3 linked regions of the Homo sapiens genome follow. The protein of the gene in region 2 binds, or shares a complex with, the protein of the main gene of each other region. Each region holds a gene or a part of one and is shown on either strand. Other genes may lie near its edges. A codon is read from its position in the direction of its gene.

Region 1 (7,027 bases), on a different chromosome or scaffold from region 2:
TCCTGAATATTTTTGCTCCCTACTCTCTCCAAACTCTGAATTTTGATTGGATTCTGTGCTGGACAGCTTAGCAGTTAGTGATGTGCTGTCGTGTAGGACATATACAATGACACACATGGAAAACAGTGAGGATTCACCATGAAGAGCCAGGAATATACATGTCAACTTAATAGGGATGAGTTTTGTTTAGAAACTAGCACATATAGAAGAGTACATAACACCACTTCTGCCATCAATACAATTGGAGAAACTTCAATCTTAGAATTGAAATTTCAACGGGTATGATAGAAATTAAGCAGCATTCCTAAATTTAGAAAAAGGAAAGTCAGTGCAGGCTGATGTTTTTAGGTCTCCTCAAAAAAAGAAAAAAAAATCTCTATGCAGAACATGGATATTAAAAATTCGCAGATTCCAACACCACTAAAAACATTGGTCATAGCCACAAAAGAAATTGAAATCTTTATAAACACAAGTTAGGAAGAACAGTGTGACAGAGTGATCTTTTCAAACACCCACATTACCTTTGAAAAAGAGAGGCTTGTGATGGTGATGATTAACTGAAACTGAAAAAAACTATTGTCAATCTGTACCAAAATGCAAATGTGCTGAGATAAATATCTAAGAAATACATTGATTTTTCATTAGTGAACATGAATTGCCCTGTACAGGTCATCTGCTGTTGAAACCAATTTAAGGAGATTATGGTCAATTATGAGGAGCAGAAAACATATTTTGTTTGTTCCATGGAATAGATGGGATAAATTTCTGGCAGTGTACACAGCACCAATAAAATTTAGCTGAAAGAATCAAATAAAAAAGCATATTTATTGAACTATGTCTATTTTTTAATAACATGATTCATGATTCTTAAGAGTAAGGCAAAGTTGATTTCATATTTGTATTTTTTGGAAATTAGATTATTTGTTTTGTTTACTTCTAAACTTTAGAATCATAATACAGTTAAAACAATCCTAGCTGATAAAGAGGTATATGAGTGTGTAGGTGTTATCCATTTTCAATAGTAAATGGAAACTAATGCAAATGTAAAATGTGCCAGTAGAATTTGTAGATGAAATGTGAAAACATTTTTTGTAATATATATGAAAAAAACTGTACATAGAGACCATGAATAAGTATTGCTTAGAGAGCAAAAATAAATGTTTTCAAACTTTTTCATTGTCTCATTTATTTGTGCTCACCCATTCCTCCTGTCTATAAGTAACTGATTTTTCTTTTTAATACAGCACCCAACCCCAATTCTTCCTGCCTTTTCAAATCAAACCTATCCAACAATAGAGCCCAAGCCATTTCTTTACGTCGTAGGACGAAAGAAGATGATGGATGCACAGTACAAATGCTATGACCGAATGCAGCAGTTACCCGCATACCAAGGAGAAGGTAAAGAGAAGGATATATATGAACATATGTTTGAAACACCATTACAGACATTTTCTTTTGTGGTTAAATATGTGTTGAATAATTTTAATTTAATATGCCAGCAGTTTTCACAGCAGTTTTCACACTATGGTATGTTTGTGTATTTCATGCAGTGCATATGCCTAATTTCTTTGCCCAAGTTCATCTGACTGCAATTTGGCTAACATCTGCCCTCATGATAAAATTACCGCAATAATTCAGTATTCACACCTGGTGAGCCGGAACAGTAAAGGACCGAGTGAGGGAGGGGATGTACAAAATGACAGGAAAGGGAATTGGAAAATAGAGGGCAGAGAATTTGCCTGAGGTGGACCCTATCAAACCCTATCTTGCTTGGATTAATTAGGTAGTATCTTCCCTTTAACTGTCAATTGGTTGGCAACCCATACTATTCTTCCACACTTTCTGGCCCCACTTTCCAGGAGAATTACAAAAAGGTACCTCCTAGCCAGACATTGTTTATCTACCAGCTTCTCTAGAATGGCTGTATGTGACTGCCCAGATATTTTCAGGTCTAAACATATTCTATTAGCTGTAGAGGACCCATAGAAAAACAAAAGGGGAGATGTGATGGGCAAGCTCATTGCAACATCCCTTTAAATTCTCCTACTTGTCCCCTGAGGCATTTGAAAAGATTCAATAAGATCTTTTACTATATATATATATATATATATATATTTAAGACAGGGTCTCACTCTCTCGCCCAGGACGATCCTCCCACTTTAGCCTCCTGAGCAGTTGGGACTACAGGTGCATGCCACCATGCCCAGCAAATTTTTGTATTTTTTTGTAGAGATGGGGTTTTGCCATGTTGTCCATGCTGGTCTCCAACTCCTGGGCTCAGGAGAGGTTCCCAAAGTGCTAGGATTACAGGCGTGAGACACTGCATCTGGCCTACTACCATGTACATTTTAAGACAACCCAACTTGGTAGGGAAAAAAATGGTAAAATATACTCTGTTACTGCACATTCTTTGCTTTCAAATAGTTCAAGTTTTAGTTTGTAGTTCTTATTTTTACCATTTTCCTTTAAACAAAAACATCAAGTCAACTGAAAGGCAGATACATATTATTCTTCTGTCTGCAGTAATTTCAGTGTTTATCAAGAACTGAACAGGCATTAGACATAACTCTGACCAAAGGAGAAACAATTTCGTTGAAGCCAGTGAGACAATAAAAACACAGAACTGATATTTTTGGGGTTTTCTGAGAGCTCTTTTCATTTTTTAAATAATTTTTGAGAGCTTTCTTGAAAGCCTGGATCTGATTCTTTTGAATACATACCTTTATAGAAGTAAATCTTCATGGTTTTAGGTAGAATTTTTTTTTTTTTTTTTTTTTTTTTTTTTTTTTTGAGAGAGGGTCTTGCAGTCTTTGGGGCATTTGCTTTTTTGATGCACTCAACTTTGGAACCTTTTACAAAGTAGAAATAGAACCCTGCTTGTCATCCAATGAGATAATTTGGTCACAGATATGCTAAGCCTATTTGAAACTTTATTTCCAAAATAAATGACTTGGCTTGTTTGAAATGTGGTTGGTTATGACTGGTGTAGTGAGCTCAGCTACTTGTAATATCGTCTTGGGATCAATCTTCTCATTTAGTTAAATCCACAAGGCTTCAATATCAATTTCCTTCTAAATGGCCAGGTCCATATTGCAATCGCACCTGGGATGGATGGCTGTGCTGGGATGACACACCGGCTGGAGTATTGTCCTATCAGTTCTGCCCAGATTATTTTCCGGATTTTGATCCATCAGGTAGAGTGTTTATTTTCATTTTATGTTCTTGCTATGAAGCTTTTAGAGTTTTCATGGTTTTGAGAAGAAAATCAGATACAAAATGTACCCACCTAATCATACTCCACATTTTAGCAACTTCTGAAGTGTTTCCTTAATTGAAATACTTCTTAGTTGTACAAATATTACAAGCTGTCCTTTTTTTTAAGTCATGTTGCTGGTCAGTTATATGTGTTGGTATTAAATTCTGGTTTATAAAAATAGCTTTTCTAAAACTCTGTGAATAGTTTTATTTAAATGTGAGTTTTAAAAATTTTTCAATTGTCTCACTGAAAAAGGGGTAGAAATCTTAATTATGAAGGAGACCCAGATGCTGAAACTAAATGGATTAGCTATGGGCACAACATATAGGTCCCTGTTAATGGGTGAAATTTGTTCCCAAGAGTAAAGTGAGCCTGAGCCTACAGGGGTTAAGTGGCTCTAGAATCCCAATTAAAGAAGAAAAATGAGTCTACCCCTGAAACAATGTTAGAAAAATGCTTTTTGTGCTTCCTTCCAGAGTGAAAGATCTAATCTGTCCCTGAAAACAAAATTTCACCTCAGTAAGGCAGAGATAATGGAAGTGGAATTGCAGAGGACCTCTTTTAAAACCAGTGCAGGCCAGCCACTTCTGGGAATTCCCATTGTGATGGAAAAGTTGGGATGTGAAGAAAGAAAGGGCTTTGTGCTGTGCCCTAAATCAGCTACATTCCTGGAATCTCTAACTAAATGCTATTTGATGATAATCCTTCAGGCCCTTATTGACTCTTCCCAATGAATGATGCTTCATTAATCTTGATTTGACAACTACATTAGAAGTTACTTGATTGGCACGAAGAGCTGTTGTGCAATTGAGGCTACTAGGCCAGTTCCAAAGTAACAATGGGGCTCTTGCCAAAGTGGATATAAATAGTGACTACAAGGCAAGGTTTTGATAAAAAAATCAGAGATTTACAGGCATCGATCCATCTTTTCAGCCTGGTTCTTATACAGAAACCTCTCAGCTGCAGGATAAATTCATTTTAAAAGTGTATCTGAAATATATACATATATTCCAAACTTAAATTATAAACATATACATAACATAATATATATATACACATACACACACATACCAAACTTAAATTCTTCAGGATTTTCTTATTGACCTAAAGCTTACATCTTAATGATGTACAAAACACATTAATGAAATGCCAGAGGTTTGTTTCACTTTGGAAAAAGTACTTGGTAAAAGATAGTGAAAGAGTGAAGAACTGTATTGAAATTCAAAAGAGGCTGACATTCTGAAGGAATATGCTGGAATGTAAAAAGCAAAATTTAACAAGGAAGCATTTACAGCCCTGCACTTGAAGACAAACAAACAATTTTAATGGCACAGAGCCATTAAATGGTCCAAATATGGTTTGGGACGGTGATTCTCAACCCAGATGCCCTTTCACAAAATGAAAAAAAAAATTGTGAGCTTATGAAAAATGCAGATGCCTGACCCCTGTCCAGATCAATAGAATTTGAATCTCTAGGGACAGGACCTCGGAATCTGCAAGTAGTTCCCCTGCGTGAATCTGGAGTGAGAGAAGCACATTGTACTTTTCATGGGTCAGTCCACACATAGAGTATTTTAGAGAGAAATATCAATTATCAAAGCACATGTGGAGAGTCTCCAGGCTGTTAGCGGAAAATCTGTGGGGAGTGAATAATGGGGGTGTTTGGTTTCTAAAGGGAAGTCCCAGAGTAAACATAATCCTTTCTTCAAGTATTGAAAGACTCATCAGGTGAAGTAGGACAAATTCTTGATAGTTATAACAGTTAAAACCAAGAAATGACTCGATCCAGACTTTAGTTAAAACAAAACAAAAAATACCATTTGCTATGGCCTTGTTCATGAGTGGAATGACCTTCTTTAAGAGTAGTATCTCTCTGCATACAATATATTTTCCCATACCTGGCTGCATAACTTCATTGAAACCAAATTACATTCATTTTATTTAAAAAAAAAACTACTTTCTGCAATCTAATAAATATAAATTGTGGCCACTTTTAAAAATTGCAAGTAAGCTTGGAAGGGTTGTCATTGACAAATAACATTAGCAAAATAATCGACAAATTTTCAACATCAATTTTTTGTGCTGATTAGTGCTAATCCTTTTTCACATGTTGTTAATGTCCAATAGAGATGCTTTAAATAGGGTTTGTCTAGTGGCTATCTCAGTAAATTTACAGTTTTAAGTTTTCTTATTTAACTTTGTAACAGATTTACATGAAGCAGTAATGATTCTAATAGGTTGCTTGAAAACATCTTTTGCTTGAAAAAATGTTTTTTCATCCATTTTAAATAAAAATTAAACATACAAATAACTCTATAACCTGCAGTTTAAATCTTGCATTTAGTTCAATAAGACCTGTTTTGGTCATACAATAAAAAATGATGAATTATACCTAAAAATTGCCAAGTTGAAAGGATTTTTTTACTAGCTCTTAGCAGATTGAGTAACCAAAACTACTAATAGAAAATTATTTTAAATATTATCAGATCTCAGTGATTTTTCAGCCCAATAAGTTTCTCTTTTCTTTAGTATGTTATTTCCTTAGCCTTTTAAACAATAGCAGTGTTCTTCAAATATTACCATATGATTCTGATTTCCACATCCTGTGCTAAAAAAGAACATAGCCATCTATAAAAGCATTATCTATACGTACAACAATGCTTTGCCTTTGTTAACATAGAAAAATGCTTCAAAAATATTTTCCCTGAGAAATGATCAAAGATTAAAATTTTGTGAAGATTCCAAATACACTTGCAAAATCTCCCTGCATATTATACCAATCTAGGCTTGCTATTTGATCTCTCAGACAATAAACACATCGAATGGGTGCTTTGAAGAACTGGAGAGTATCTGAATAACTCAGATTAAATTTGGCAAGTACATTCATTTTAGTGTTTACTTGTTCATTATTTCTATGTTATTTAATTCAACCTGATTTTTTCTTTCAGTTGCTTGGCCAATTCAGAGGTTAGAATTTAAATATTATCTTGTAGCTAACAACATTATCTAAAATTCTTTAGGTCACTGGAATGGAATGTAGATAACCTTGATCATTTATGAGATTTCACCTTCTAGAGTCCCAGTACCAAATTAAAATATTGTTGACCAGTATTATAATACAAAAGCGAGGTTTTTTTTAGACAATCCAGCCAAATTCTAATTTTATTTCAGTGCCATTTTAGTTGTTTGCTAACAATTATACTAGTTTTACAGTGTGTTTATCCTGCTGATAATAGTGTCTTGATAAATATTATCTCACCATTCTGACCACTTTTTACTCCCAATATATATTGATGTGATTTCCCAGCCTCATGCACTTTACCCAGAATCTCAGATATATACTCAGTTAATAATTAAGCAAAATACAGAACAAAGAAGTTTTCTTATTTATTTTTAAGATGGAGCACTTGATGTAGGGTCTGGTATATTTTAAGTTATCAAATGTTATTTTAAAAAATTATTGTAGTTGCTATGGTGGCCTAATATTTTAGTGTGAATTTCAGCAAAGATATGAGTCATCCCCATGAGAACTTATTATTTCTATCAAGTTTGGAACTTTACTTTGTACTGATACATATACACTGCCTAAAAAAATTAAAATAAAAAAAGCAGCAAGGCTTTATCATACTGTAACCAGCACTGAATATATCACACAAAAATAATTGAAAAAATAATAAGCCTGATGGGAACCAGCAGACACCACAAAGCAAGCACTTGGAAAAAGTTCTTTCTCAGGGCTCAAAGAAAATCTTCTTATCCTTTTCCTCCAAA
Region 2 (7,272 bases):
GACATGGAGAGGGGTGGTGAACCTAGTAAAGGAAGCCCCCACTGCTTTCTCCCTCAATTGTGAGGGCCTTAGGAATGGATTCCTGTTGCTCAGTCAGGGTTCCTCTTCCCAGGCCCTGTGAGTAAACTGAAGCATGAAGAAGAGGAATAGTCAGGGCTCCTGGGCAGCCTCCTGCTCCTCTTGCAGGAGTCACAAGCAGAGATTCCTCCCTTGCCCCTTCCCCCACACCTCCCCAGTTGCAGGCCCCCAGCTGCTGTCCAGACCGGAAGGGAGTCTCTTCCTGCTTGTTTCCTGGAGCCGAGTTTGGATATAGGCAGGAAAGGCCCGCCTGGGAGGAAAGAATATAGGGGTGTGACCTTCATGGAGGCAGGGAGCAGGGGGGCAGGTGAAATGAACAGAACAATGGGCCATCCAGATTTTTCCAGTTCTACTACCCAGGGCTGAGGGCCTGTGGCAGTGGCAGGGAAGGACACAGGTTCCACTGAAATGGGGAGAAGGACATTGTACAAAAAAAAAGTTTTATTTTGAAGATTACAGAACTTGTGCCATGACCCCACCTGGCTTCCATTCCCAGCAATCCAGGGATCTGTGGTGGGGATGAGAGTGAGAAAAGGGAGTAGGAGGGGAGGAGGGAGGCCTGGTGGGGGTGGGGAAGTGGAGTAACATGGTTGTTGAGAAGCTCGTGGCCCCCTAGGCCTGGGCCTCACTGTCTTTACTCCTCCATACTACAAGAGTGATGAGGAAGGGGATGAGGCAGATGGGGGCTATGATCATGGCCAGGAGTACATCCTCTGGGGGGTCAGAGAAGGTGGGCTGCACCAGGGAGCAGTTGGCAAAGTGGATCTGGTGAGTCTCAAAGATGATCCTCTCTGCCAAGGGATTGGGGAAGCCCAGGTCAAACAACTCTGCAAAGTGCTCCAGGCAATCTCGCAGGGTGCTATAAGGCCTAGGGGCAGAAGAGGACTTGAGTGAGAGAGGGGGTGGACCCAGGGAGAAGAGTGCCCCACTCTCACTCAGGGTCTACCTGCAATGAGCAGGTCCACCCCCTGGCCTGAGCCACCCTCCATCACTGCCCCTACCTGCTAATCATGGCCCAGTCGCACCAATCCTTTTCGATAGGATCCATTTGATCCTTATAATGATTCCAGCAAAATTGGACAGCTGTCTCATAGTTCTTCACCGTCCCCCCTGTAGGTACAGATGCTACACAATGACCACACCCCTACCCCTCCCTACAAACCCTCCTGCCCAGGTGCTTGCAAGGTGAACTGCCTGTCTTCAAACGTGGGAACCCTTCAGAAAGTTTCCCTAGCAAAACATTCTGGCTGAGGACAGAGTCCCAGCTCAGGAATCCTATAATGACTTCCATGTGCTAAGCACTTTCCATCCCAGCCTGATAAGAACTTCCACGTACACCTTTTCCTGGGGTCTTCTCGCCCACTTGTGAGGTGGGCAGCTCAGAGCCGTGCAGGGGCTTTGTAGGAGGACAGGGAGAAAGACCACGAGGAACCCCAAGAAAGAACAGAGGGGAGTGTAGTGGGGCATCAGCTGGGGTTGGGCAGGCCTCGTGGGAAAGGAACCCTCCCCACTGAACTTGCTCTCGTCCTTACCCTCGGCCACCCTTCCACACCCTGGGTACCCACCTTCTGACCCTGGTGTGCCTGTGGTGGGAAGAGGCTGAGCCAGGGCCTCGTGGGGATTCAGGACAGCTGTGGGAAGAAACGGGAGAGGAGGGTAACATAGCGGGGACCCCGGCAGTGGAGCCTGCGAGGGGGGTTGGGGGACTGAGACCCTCCGAAAATAGGCTACCTTGGAAGAAAAGGAGGAATAATCTAGCCCCCACGGACGCCTCAGTGCCGGGGAGGGAGGGGCTGGCACCAGCTCCTTGTCACTCACACCCAGGCCCAAAGCCCCCTCATCTCTGGCCAGCTTCCGTCCTCCTAAGCCCTCTTCGAGGGGCCGGGGCCAGCACCCCAGCTTTCCCTGGGTGGGAAGCAGCTCATGCTGCGCCCGCCCCGAGGTGGGGTCAGGGACCGTCCGAGGGCCAGTGCTGCTAGGTACGTCGGTCCTAACCCGCACCCCAGGGCCCGTTCCGGCCTCGGCCATCCAGCCCCTCTCCCCTCTCCCCTCTCCCCTCCGGGGCCTCTCGCGCCTCCCGCCCGGGCCTCGGGGCGCCGCGCTCACCGCCCAGCAGGAGGAGGAGGCGGAGCGCTGCCGGCCGCCCGACTCGGGTCCTAGGGAGACGCGGGCCGCCGGCGCGCTCCACCCGGAGCGAGGCCATCGTGCAGCAAGGAGGCGAGGAGCGGCGGCGGCGCTGAGCCGGGCCCGGGTGTGGGGGCGCCTATATCCCCAGCCCAAGCTGCAGGAAGCCGCGCCGCTTCCTCGGAGGGGCTGGGACGGCGGCGGCCACGTGGGGGGCGGGGGCGACGCTCGGGGCCCGCGGCTGGAGGGGGAGTCGCTGCCTCACCCGCGCCTGGCGCCCGCGGCTCCCTCCGCCTCGCCGGCGTTGGCCCACCCTCTCGTAGCTCACCCCGCGAGGCTGGACAGCTCCCGGAACCCCGGAACCGGGATCTATTTCGGGGGCTCGGCTGCGTGGCGCCCAGGACTCTCCAGGGTCTCCCAGGATCGCTCCCCGAATTCGAGTCGCCCCCTCTCTCTTTCGGGTCTGGAGGGGTCGGCAAGCTGCTCTCCCAGACGTGGAGAAGAGGGAGGGGGCTGGGAGCTCCAGCGGCCTCTCGACGCCGCTGCTTCTAAGGGGCTGTCCTGGGTTGTGGGGGAAGGGGCGCCTGGAGCTGAGCCATGCAGCTCAGGGTTCCTTATCCTATCCCTAGGAATACCAGCTGATGTCAGTCCGCCAGCCAAAACCAGGGAGGAGAAGCGGGAGCCAGCCCTCTGGAGTCGGGAGAAGGTCTGGGGAGTGGGGTAGAGGGGAAAGCAAAGTCCAAATACCTTCCCTTCAGACACCTCCTGGGGCCTAGACCCCACAAACCTGTTGTGGGGAGGGCAAAATACGATGACTACGTTCCCAGGAAGAAGGTGCCACAGCTCTTCAGGACCACGGTTGGGAGAAAGAATGGAGGGGTTTTAGAACCTTCAGTGTGCGACTTCATGTGCCAGGTGAGTGTAACACCATTTTACAGACCGAGAAGCTAAAGCTCAGGGCCAACAGCCCGGGATTTGAATTCAGAAGCTCTGGGTTCTAATTCTGTCTTCTTACTCCCCAGCTATAGAGCCTTGAATGACACGTTTACCTTCAGGACTTCTCATGTGAAATAGGGACATTCCCCTCCTCACTGTATGATGGCAGCTGTGAAAGGGCACTGCACTCGCTAAATGCTAGTTTCCTTTCCTCTTTTCCTAAGTGACTTATCTAAGGTCACACTGTTAAGGAAGCAGCAAGGCTGAGTCTGGGCCTCCGGGGGTCCTGACTTCAGCCACACCACAGCTGCTTCTTGTGTCCTGGGCCAGAGGTTCATTAGTCTGAAGCAGCTGAGGAGCCCAGGAGCTGGTTTGGCCATGACGTTCAAGTCCCAGACACAGCTGTCAGCACCAAACTTTCCTAAATTACTCCCAGACACTGACCCTTGGACTCAGCTGCTGCTGTTGTCCCAGTTTACTGATTCCTGCCCACCACAAATTATCTGTCCTGATCTCTCCTGAAGTCTTCATCTCAGGATCTCAAGCTCTTGGATCATGGGCACGGATAACCTGTTGTCCTCCTCTATGGTCAAGAGGCTGCTTTTGCAAAGAATCCAGTGGGAGAGAGTCAATGGCCTGCTTGACGTGAACTCCAAAGTCCTCCTGGTAAGGATCATTTCTACAATGATGCAGAAAAGAGCCATGCAGTCTCTGAGACATTTCAGGCTGGGACCAAATCTAGTCCTTCCTGCCTGCCTAGGATTGCTCCTTTCAAGAAGGAAGCATGGGAGATTTCTGAGTGATAAGATGGGAGGAAGGAGCAAGGAGGTGCAGAAAGCAAAACAAGCCATTTTCACTGGGTTGGGGCCAGAAGCACATGAGCCCACTATGGGTTAGGACTGGGGTTGGGGTCAAGATTAAAGGGGACAAAAGCAAATGTTAGATTTAAAATAGAGCCTGGGCAACATAGTGAAACCCTGTCTCTACAAAAAAAAAACTATAAAAAAATTTTTAAAAAATTAGCCTGGCATAGTGGTGTGCACCTGTAGTCCCAGCTACTCGGGAGGCTGAGGCAGGAGGATCACTTGAGCCCCAGAGGTTGAGGCTGCAGAGAGCTGTGATTGTGCCCTATCTCAAAAAAAAAAAAAAAGGACAATATGGCATAATGATAATGGATAATCATAACGGATGAAAGAAAAAAACTGATGAGGATTCTGAAGGTAGGTTCTGCCTCTGTCTTACTGCAAGTAACTTGAGCAGGTTATTTCACATCTCTGGAGCTCAAGATTTTCATATGTAAAATGGCCTTAAGATCAAAAAAGAAAATATAGGTAACTTGGTAGGAAGTTCCTATTTTATTTTTATCTTACTTTACTTTTTAGGAACAGGGGCTCACTCTGTTGCCCACATTGGAGTGCGGTGGAAGAATCATGGCATGCTGCAGTCTTGAGCTTCTAGGCTCAAGAGATCCTCCTGGTTCAGTCTCCCAAGTAGCTAGGACAGCAGGCATATTTTTTGTAGATATGGGGGTCTTGCTTTTTTGCCGAGGCTGGTCTCGAACTCCTGGCTTCAAGCAATCTTCCTGCATCAGTCTCTTAAAGTGTTGGGATTCCAGGCATGAACCACTGCACCTGGCCCTTGGGAAGTTTTATTTTTAGCCTAGGGTTGGGGTTAAGTTTGCATCATGATGTTGAGACCTCCAAAGGAGAACTTATTGTAGTCATTCCTGAGCTCAGGTGTCCAAACTGTCTAATTGGAGAATCTGGGAATTTTCTCTCGTTTTGATTTTCCTCTTCCACTTTTCCATGCCAGTTGGATGTTTGAATGTTTTTATCGACCTCTGAGAGCATCCGGGTAACTGAGGGTTTACTTTGGGGGTCTTTGGAGATGAATAGGGACAGGAGACCTCACCTTTCTTTTCCATGTAGCCATAGGAGATAGTCCCACGATCTGATGATCTGTAGCAATGGGTAGAGGAAGGGCCGTATTAGGAACAGAAGCTAGTTTCGTCATGGGAAGTCCCCTGTTTTCCACTCCTGAGGGCCCTCACATTCCCTTTCTAAGCCCCTTTCTGCTTTTGCTATTAAAAAATACAGTTTTTAAATTGCAAGTAATATGTAAGTATATACTTGTTGCAAAATATTTAACCCAGAAAACTTTGTATCCCCACTCATATCTCATTTCCCACATATTCTGGATTTTTTTAAAGGAAAGCATAAATGGGATTTGATACTCCTATTATTCAGTGACTTTTTTTTTTCTTGAGATGGAGTCTTGCTCTGTTGCCCAGGCTGGAGTGCAGTGGCGCCATCTTGGCTCACTGCAACCTCCGCTTCCCAGGTTCAGGTGATTCTACTGCCTCAGCCTCCTGAGCAGCTGGGATTACATGTGTACGCCGCCACATCCAGCTAATTTTTGTATTTTAGTAGAGACAGGGTTTCACCAGGTTGGCCAGGCTTGTCTTGAACTCCTGACCTCAAGGGATCCACCTGCCTTGGCCTCCCAAAATGCTGGGATTACAGGTGTGAGCCACTGTGCCTGGCCTCAGTGTCTTTTAAAAAATGTGATACTATTGCTGGGTATGCAGCTCATGCCTGTAATCCCAGTTACTCGGGAGCCTGAAGCAGGAACTTGAGCCCAGGAATTGGAGACTAACCTGGGTGATATAGCGAGACTCTGTCTAAAATAATAATAATGATAATAAAGAAGCCAGGCACAGTGCCTCACACCTGTAAACCCAACACTTTGGAAGACCAAGGCAGGAGGATCACTTGAAGTCAGGAGTTCAAGACCAGCCTGGGCAACATGGCAAGACCCTGTCTCTACAAAAAATAAAAATAAATTAGCCAGGCTTGGTGGCACATGCCTGTAGTCCCAGCTCCACAGCAGGCTGAGACAGGAGGATCCCTTGAGCCCAGAATTTTAAGGCTGCAGTGAGCCATGATCATGCCACTGCATTCCAGCATGGGCTACAGAGTGAGACCTTGTCTCCAAATAGAAAAAGAAGAAAGAAAGGAAGGGAAGGGGAAGGGGAAGGGGAAAAAGGAAGGAAAGGAGGGAACACTTAGTAACATGTCTTGGATATCTTTCCATGATACTACATATGTATGTATGCCTCTTTCTTTTTAACTGTACGTAGTATTGCCTTTAGTCTTTTTTTTCCTTATGTCCAGTGAAATCTAGGGGGTTTTCTTTGTTTGTTTTTTATTTATTTATTTTTGAGACAGAGTCTTGCTCTGTTGCCCAGGCTGGAGTGCAGTGGTGTGATCTTAGCTCACTGCAACCTCCGCCTCCCAGGTTCAAGCAATTCTCCTGCCTTAGCCTCCCAGTAGCTGGGATTACAGATGCCCCCTACAAGGCCCAGCTAATTTTTGTATTTTTACTAGAGACAGGGTTTCACCATGTTGGCCAGGCTTGTCTCAAACTCCAGACCTTAAGTGATCTGCCCACCTTGGCCTCCCAAAATTCTGGAATTACAGGTGTGAGCCACCGGGCCTGGCCTGGAAATCTAGTTTGTTTGTTTTTTTGGTTGTTTGTTTGTTTTTGAGATGGAGTTTCGCTCTTGTTGCCCAAGCTGGAGTGCAATGGTGCTATCTCGACTCACTGCAACCTCCGTCTCCTGGGTTCAAGCGATTCTCCTGCCTCAGCCTCCCGAGTAGCTGGGACTACAGGCGCCCACCACCACGCCCAGCTAATTTTTGTATTTTTAGTAGAGACAGGGTTTCACCATGTTGGTCAGGCTGGTCTCGAACTCCTGACCTCAGGTGATCCACCTGCCTCGGCCTCCAAAGTGCTGGGATTACAGGCGTGAGCTACCGCCCCCGGCCATACATCTAGTTTTTACATTTCTTACACATTTCCTTATTCCTCTGCCCCCACCCCGCACCACCTAGGGCTTGGAAAGAGAGGGATCTGGTTCTTGTCCAGCTGAACATTGTCCTGAGACTTCTGGCCCCAGTGTAGGTTAATTCCTCATGAGCAGGGATCCTACTACCATCCTACTGCCACTTCCTTTCTTGTTACAGGCCAAGGGTCATCCTGCCTGGAGCAGGGCAAGAGGTGACTTGACCCTTAGGAAGAGTGGCATCTCTAATCTTCAACTTCCACCACCACCACACACACAAATGCAGAGCC
Region 3 (5,816 bases), on a different chromosome or scaffold from region 2:
CATCAGACATGGAAAAGTCCTCAACGTACTTGAGCTAGAGATGTATTTAAATGTTCTCATTTGTGCCCATTGACTGACAATGAAGAAAATTCACTCTTGTGCCTTACATTCCATTATGACCAATATTTTACTGTATAGGACCCACCTACCCCTGATCTCTAGCTTCAAACAGAGGGGAAGGAAGTCATTAAACTGCAAATTTATTCAGCAGAAGAGGATTCAAATATATAAAAATGGAGTGGTTACATTCCTAAATTTATTTTTCACAATATTCACCAGATTTATAATTATTTGTTCAACACTTTTCTTTCCTCTATGTAGTAAGCTCCATGAAGACAAATATCATGCTCCCTTTTTTAGAATGTAGCACAATTTCTGGCATATGGGAGTCACTCAGAAACAAAGGTTGCTGCTACTGCCCTGCTGCTGCTGCTGCTGATTTGTATTCTTCGTATCCTAACTTCTTTTCTTTTGTGTATCTTTCGCTTATCCTGTCACGAATTGTCTTCTCATTCTATTAATAAAGACATTAATATAAAACTCAATGTTGCACATGAAATCTTGTAAATGGGGGTCCAGATTACCTATTTGTTTGGCAACAATAAATACATATGAATTATAAAAGCTTTGAAGACAAAACATGCCATGAAAAATATTAATGGAATGTAAAGTACAATGTAATTGTAATACATTTCCTAATGTGAAGATGGTACACTTAATTTTTTAAATTAAGAAAATGAAGCTATATTATTCACTGATTAACATAACTTTTTTTAAAAAAGCTCTTCTCCAAGACCTATTTAATTGTGCTTCAAAAACAGTGTCTTCATTTCAATTAATGGGTTGTTCTTGTTCTTTCTGTTTTCCTTTTGATTGATAGGTTCAAGCAATTCTGAGAAGAAACTGGAATCAATACAAAATCCAATTTGGAAACAGCTTTTCCAACTCAGAAGCTCTTCGTAGTGCGTCTTACACAGTGTCAACAATCAGTGATGGTCCAGGTTATAGTCATGACTGTCCTAGTGAACACTTAAATGGAAAAAGCATCCATGATATTGAAAATGTTCTCTTAAAACCAGAAAATTTATATAATTGAAAATAGAAGGATGGTTGTCTCACTGTTTTGTGCTTCTCCTAACTCAAGGACTTGGACCCATGACTCTGTAGCCAGAAGACTTCAATATTAAATGACTTTTTGAATGTCATAAAGAAGAGCCTTCACATGAAATTAGTAGTGTGTTGATAAGAGTGTAACATCCAGCTCTATGTGGGAAAAAAGAAATCCTGGTTTGTAATGTTTGTCAGTAAATACTCCCACTATGCCTGATGTGACGCTACTAACCTGACATCACCAAGTGTGGAATTGGAGAAAAGCACAATCAACTTTTCTGAGCTGGTGTAAGCCAGTTCCAGCACACCATTGCATGAATTCACAAACAAATGGCTGTAAAACTAAACATACATGTTGGGCATGATTCTACCCTTATTGCCCCAAGAGACCTAGCTAAGGTCTATAAACATGAAGGGAAAATTAGCTTTTAGTTTTAAAACTCTTTATCCCATCTTGATTGGGGCAGTTGACTTTTTTTTTGCCCAGAGTGCCGTAGTCCTTTTTGTAACTACCCTCTCAAATGGACAATACCAGAAGTGAATTATCCCTGCTGGCTTTCTTTTCTCTATGAAAAGCAACTGAGTACAATTGTTATGATCTACTCATTTGCTGACACATCAGTTATATCTTGTGGCATATCCATTGTGGAAACTGGATGAACAGGATGTATAATATGCAATCCTACTTCTATATCATTAGGAAAACATCTTAGTTGATGCTACAAAACACCTTGTCAACCTCTTCCTGTCTTACCAAACAGTGGGAGGGAATTCCTAGCTGTAAATATAAATTTTGTCCCTTCCATTTCTACTGTATAAACAAATTAGCAATCATTTTATATAAAGAAAATCAATGAAGGATTTCTTATTTTCTTGGAATTTTGTAAAAAGAAATTGTGAAAAATGAGCTTGTAAATACTCCATTATTTTATTTTATAGTCTCAAATCAAATACATACAACCTATGTAATTTTTAAAGCAAATATATAATGCAACAATGTGTGTATGTTAATATCTGATACTGTATCTGGGCTGATTTTTTAAATAAAATAGAGTCTGGAATGCTATATTTGGTAAATATTTTAAAGACAACCAGATGCCAGCATCAGAAGTCTGTTTGAGAACTAAGAGAACAGAAACATCTATCATAAGATATATTTATTTTAAAAACACAAGGTCACTATTTTATTGAATATATTTGTTTTGATAACTCATACCTTAATAATAGGTGTGTTTGACATATTTCTTTTTTCATTTTGACAATGAACTCACATTCTAATCCAGAAATTTTAAACAACTACTGTGATAAATACCAATCTGCTACTTTTATAGATTTTACCCCATTAAAATATTACTTTACTGACTTTTACTATGTGAAGATATATAGCTTTGGAAATGTCCCAGGCTATTCAAGAAATATAAAAAACTAGAAGGATACTATATATACCATATACAATGCTTTAATATTTTAATAGAGCTACTGTATATAATACAAATTAGGGAAATACTTGAATATATCATTGAGAAAAAATTATTGTCAGATCTTACTGAATTATTGTCAGACTTTATTAAATAAAGATAGAAGAAAACCTTGCTAATGAATTAAAGTGAAATTTGCATGGGATTCAGTTTCTCTAATGTTATTTTCCGCTGAAATCTCTAAAGAACAAGAATGACTTCAATTAGTAAAAGTCAATTTTGGGAAAAGTCATGGGTATCTGTTTTTTAAGTGTGTCAATCTGATTAAAATGGATGAAACAAATTACTCATCATAAGTTGTTTCTTAAGCTGTCAATATGTCAATAGATGGTGAGTTCAGAACTTATTTCAAATTGCTAAGACAAATTATCTAAATTCGTAAGAATTAACATATAGAATGGTCTGGTCAGTACATTTATAATTTATCTATGCATGAAAAAGTATTGTTTTGTTTGAAACATGAATTTCATAGCAAGCTGCCATAGAAAGGAACGCAGGCTGTTCTAGACCTTCAACTGCCTAAATTATACAAAAATTCATTTTAATAAACTCAATTATTAGCTATTTATTATTCAAAGACCCATATTTAAATCCTTTGCTGACCATGTTGACATATATCAGCCTTCTTCTAGACAAACTGTCAACTCTCAACCATCTTGACAGTAGAAGTGACAGTAAAAAATGTTGAATGATCAGAGATTATATTAAAATAAACATGTAATTTTCAAGTATTTTTGTTGTGCTTTTATAATATTAATTCTAGATCAGATTTATTTTATAGCCAGGGTTTGTCTGTTGTAGAGTCTTGAGGCGTAGCAGTCATTCATGATTAATCACTGTTAGTTTTGTACCCATATATTTTTAGAATAGTTTTAAATGTTAGATTTCTCAAAAGCTAAATGCTACTTAATATCTTTGTATCATACTCATAAAGCAAAGTAAATCTGACACTTTTTTTAAAGCAAACTTCTTTGCTGTCAAAAAAATAAATTTGGGGAAATTTCTAGCTTTTAAAATGTAGATCTGCATTTTACTGTGATTACTTGTGAAAGTCATATTTTAATTTTCTAAATTCTAATTTGTCATTTTATTTCCTAAAGTTAATTTCCAATGCATTTATTCATAAAATATTCATTCTGGAATGCAGTGTTTGTTTAAATGTAATCCAATGTATATAGAATTAGTGGTGGCTGTAGTGCTGTATTTATTGCTTATAATTTTTTTTAAATGTGAACTTACTTTTAATTTTCTCTTGGTTTTAATCTGCTAGTAGAAACCACTAGTTATCTGTAAAAATATATTCAAGATATTCTGATCAATTATAACAATTTATGTTATGCCTAGAGTATATCTCTATTTTTTGATTGTATGAAAATATTAAAGTTATGAGTTAAAGTTTATTTTCACTGATATTTACTACAGTGCCAAATAATCTAATTTATAAACATAATTCTTACAGTAATCAATGGGATACTTCTCAAAATTAACAAATCTCTTAACAAAATATATCTTTTGCCCTCTTTAAAGTCTTCAGTAAACCAGTAAATGAATTCAATAAACCAATTAAGAAAAAGTCATGATTTGTTTTTCAAACTAAAAAAATCCAACTATACTACAATGGATGCAAACTCCTTCTTATGCTGAAAGAAGAAAAAGGATGTCTCAAAATAAGAAAATGTTCAGAAATTCATCTCCTTTATCTACTATATTTCATTTTGTAGTTTTGTTTAAATATTAGAAAGAAAAATAAGTATTTAAAGGTAATTTTTAAAGAGGGCATATTCATGGCTCTCACACAAATATAAAATGAAAATGTTTCAAAGATTTCGTTTAACTCATTAATTAATGAAGGAACAAGTAAGATGTTACAAAAATTCAAAGGAGAATTCAAAATATCACACTATATGAGAATATTAAAAATGTTGAAATAAATTTATAAATAAGTGCAAAACCACTCTATCCTTAGGGCAATAATCAGTTGCATTCCACTTAATAACTAATTTTTATTTTTATGATCAATAATAATGTACATCATTTTCTGTTTTCTGGAGAAAATGCCCATTTAAAACACTTGTGTTTTTTTCTTATAATCTCTCCTCCTTGTGATTATACTAATCTCAAAGAAAGAATATTCTTGATTAAAAATATTGCTAGTTTAATAAGGTTTGGCCTATTGTTGAGATAGGTACATGAGAGTGTTAATTACAATATAGACCTCCTCAAGTTGGTTTTACAAATCTAGAACCATAGTGCACTTTTTAACAGCTTCATTGAGATATACTTGACATATCATATAATACTTCATATTCAAAGCAGTTTTTAGTATATTAGTAGAGTATATTTTAATACATCCATAGAGACACGCTACCATCACCAATTTCATTACATTTTTATGACCTTGAGAAGAAACAGTGTATCCTTTAGCCATCACTTCTCTATCCCTCTATCTCTACTTTCATTTCAGCTATAAACATCACTAATTTACATTCTGTCTCAACAGATTTCCCTATTCTAGACTTTCATATGATTGTAATCATATAGTATGTGACCTTTTGTGACTAAATGATTTCACTTATGTTTTTAAAATTCATTCATGTTTTGGCATGTATCAATGTTTCCTTTTATTCCATTGGGTGAACATACCACATTTTATTTATTCATTTGTCTGTTGATGGATATGTTTGTTTTGCTTTTACCTTTTGGTTATTATAAATAATATACCTATAAACATTTGTTTGCAAGTTTTTGTTTGTAAAAAAGTTTTCATTTCTTTTCAGGACATTTGCAAAACAGCCAGATCATTTTACATTCCCACCAGCAGTGTATGAAGGGTTCTGAATTCTCCATTTTTCTCAACACTTGTTATTACCTGTCTTTTTTATTTTAGACATCCTAATGGATGTGAAATGGTACCTGGTAGTTTAATTTTCATTTCTCTGATGGTTAAAGATGTCAAGCATCTATTGGCCATGTGTAATCTTTTTTGGAGGAATATTTATTCAGATTATTGGTCCATTATTAATTTGGTTGTCTTTTTATTATTGATATATATATATATCAATATGTATATATATATAGTCTCACACACTCACATCTGCAAATATATATGTATAGGTCTCTTTTCAGATAATTTGCAAATACTTTCTCCCATTCTGTGAATTGTCTTGTCCCTTTCTTAATTGTGTCCTTTGATGCATAAAAGGTAACAATTATTTATTAAGTACATTT

The links. The genes of interacting proteins can lie anywhere in the genome.
Region 1: the proteins of RAMP2 (region 2) and CALCR are in contact, whole or in part, in a cryo-EM structure (PDB 7TYX), measured with the Homo sapiens proteins. Residues at the interface, in NP_005845.2 of Homo sapiens: Trp86 (codon at 1,096), Tyr93 (codon at 942), Ser94 (codon at 939), Arg97 (codon at 930), Asp98 (codon at 927), Glu101 (codon at 918), Leu109 (codon at 894), Pro112 (codon at 885), Glu117 (codon at 870), Ile120 (codon at 861), Phe121 (codon at 858), His124 (codon at 849), Phe128 (codon at 837), Cys131 (codon at 828), Pro136 (codon at 813), Phe138 (codon at 807), Ser139 (codon at 804), Asp140 (codon at 801), Pro141 (codon at 798), Leu146 (codon at 783), Met149 (codon at 774), Ile150 (codon at 771), Pro153 (codon at 762), Ile154 (codon at 759), Leu156 (codon at 753), Ile157 (codon at 750), Leu160 (codon at 741), Ile161 (codon at 738), Leu163 (codon at 732), Val164 (codon at 729); in NP_001158210.1 of Homo sapiens: Arg45, Lys46, Met48, Met49, Asp50, Gln52, Tyr53, Lys54, Tyr56, Asp57, Met59, Gln60, Trp76, Gly78, Arg126, Phe235, Leu238, Ile242, Thr246, Val250, Glu255, Lys256, Gln257, Arg258, Trp261, Tyr262, Leu264, Leu265, Phe269, Pro273.
Region 3: the proteins of RAMP2 (region 2) and CALCRL are in contact, whole or in part, in a crystal structure (PDB 3AQF), measured with the Homo sapiens proteins. Residues at the interface, in NP_005845.2 of Homo sapiens: Trp86 (codon at 1,096), Ile89 (codon at 1,087), Tyr93 (codon at 942), Ser94 (codon at 939), Arg97 (codon at 930), Leu109 (codon at 894), Gly110 (codon at 891), Pro112 (codon at 885), Glu117 (codon at 870), Ile120 (codon at 861), Phe121 (codon at 858), His124 (codon at 849), Gln125 (codon at 846), Phe128 (codon at 837), Ala129 (codon at 834), Cys131 (codon at 828), Ser132 (codon at 825), Leu133 (codon at 822), Val134 (codon at 819); in NP_001258680.1 of Homo sapiens: Arg38, Asn39, Ile41, Met42, Thr43, Gln45, Tyr46, Glu47, Tyr49, Gln50, Lys51, Ile52, Met53, Gln54, Trp69, Asp70, Gly71, Arg119.

What each region holds. Positions count from the first base shown.
Region 1 is NC_000007.14:93,473,725-93,480,751, reverse strand, and holds part of CALCR (calcitonin receptor isoform 2 precursor), read left to right. Parts: intron 1-1,244; coding exon 1,245-1,398; intron 1,399-3,083; coding exon 3,084-3,194; intron 3,195-7,027. UniProt on the Homo sapiens protein: G protein-coupled receptor activated by ligand peptides amylin (IAPP), calcitonin (CT/CALCA) and calcitonin gene-related peptide type 1 (CGRP1/CALCA).
Region 2 is NC_000017.11:42,756,271-42,763,542, reverse strand, and holds RAMP2 (receptor activity-modifying protein 2 precursor), read right to left. Parts: upstream 2,317-7,272; 5' UTR 2,282-2,316; coding exon 2,185-2,281; intron 1,710-2,184; coding exon 1,644-1,709; intron 1,189-1,643; coding exon 1,080-1,188; intron 947-1,079; coding exon 691-946; 3' UTR 502-690; downstream 1-501. UniProt on the Homo sapiens protein: Accessory protein that interacts with and modulates the function of G-protein coupled receptors including calcitonin gene-related peptide type 1 receptor (CALCRL) and calcitonin receptor (CALCR). Required for the transport of CALCRL to the plasma membrane.
Region 3 is NC_000002.12:187,341,464-187,347,279, reverse strand, and holds the end of CALCRL (calcitonin gene-related peptide type 1 receptor precursor), read left to right. Parts: intron 1-880; coding exon 881-1,096; 3' UTR 1,097-5,316; downstream 5,317-5,816. UniProt on the Homo sapiens protein: G protein-coupled receptor which specificity is determined by its interaction with receptor-activity-modifying proteins (RAMPs). Together with RAMP1, form the receptor complex for calcitonin-gene-related peptides CALCA/CGRP1 and CALCB/CGRP2.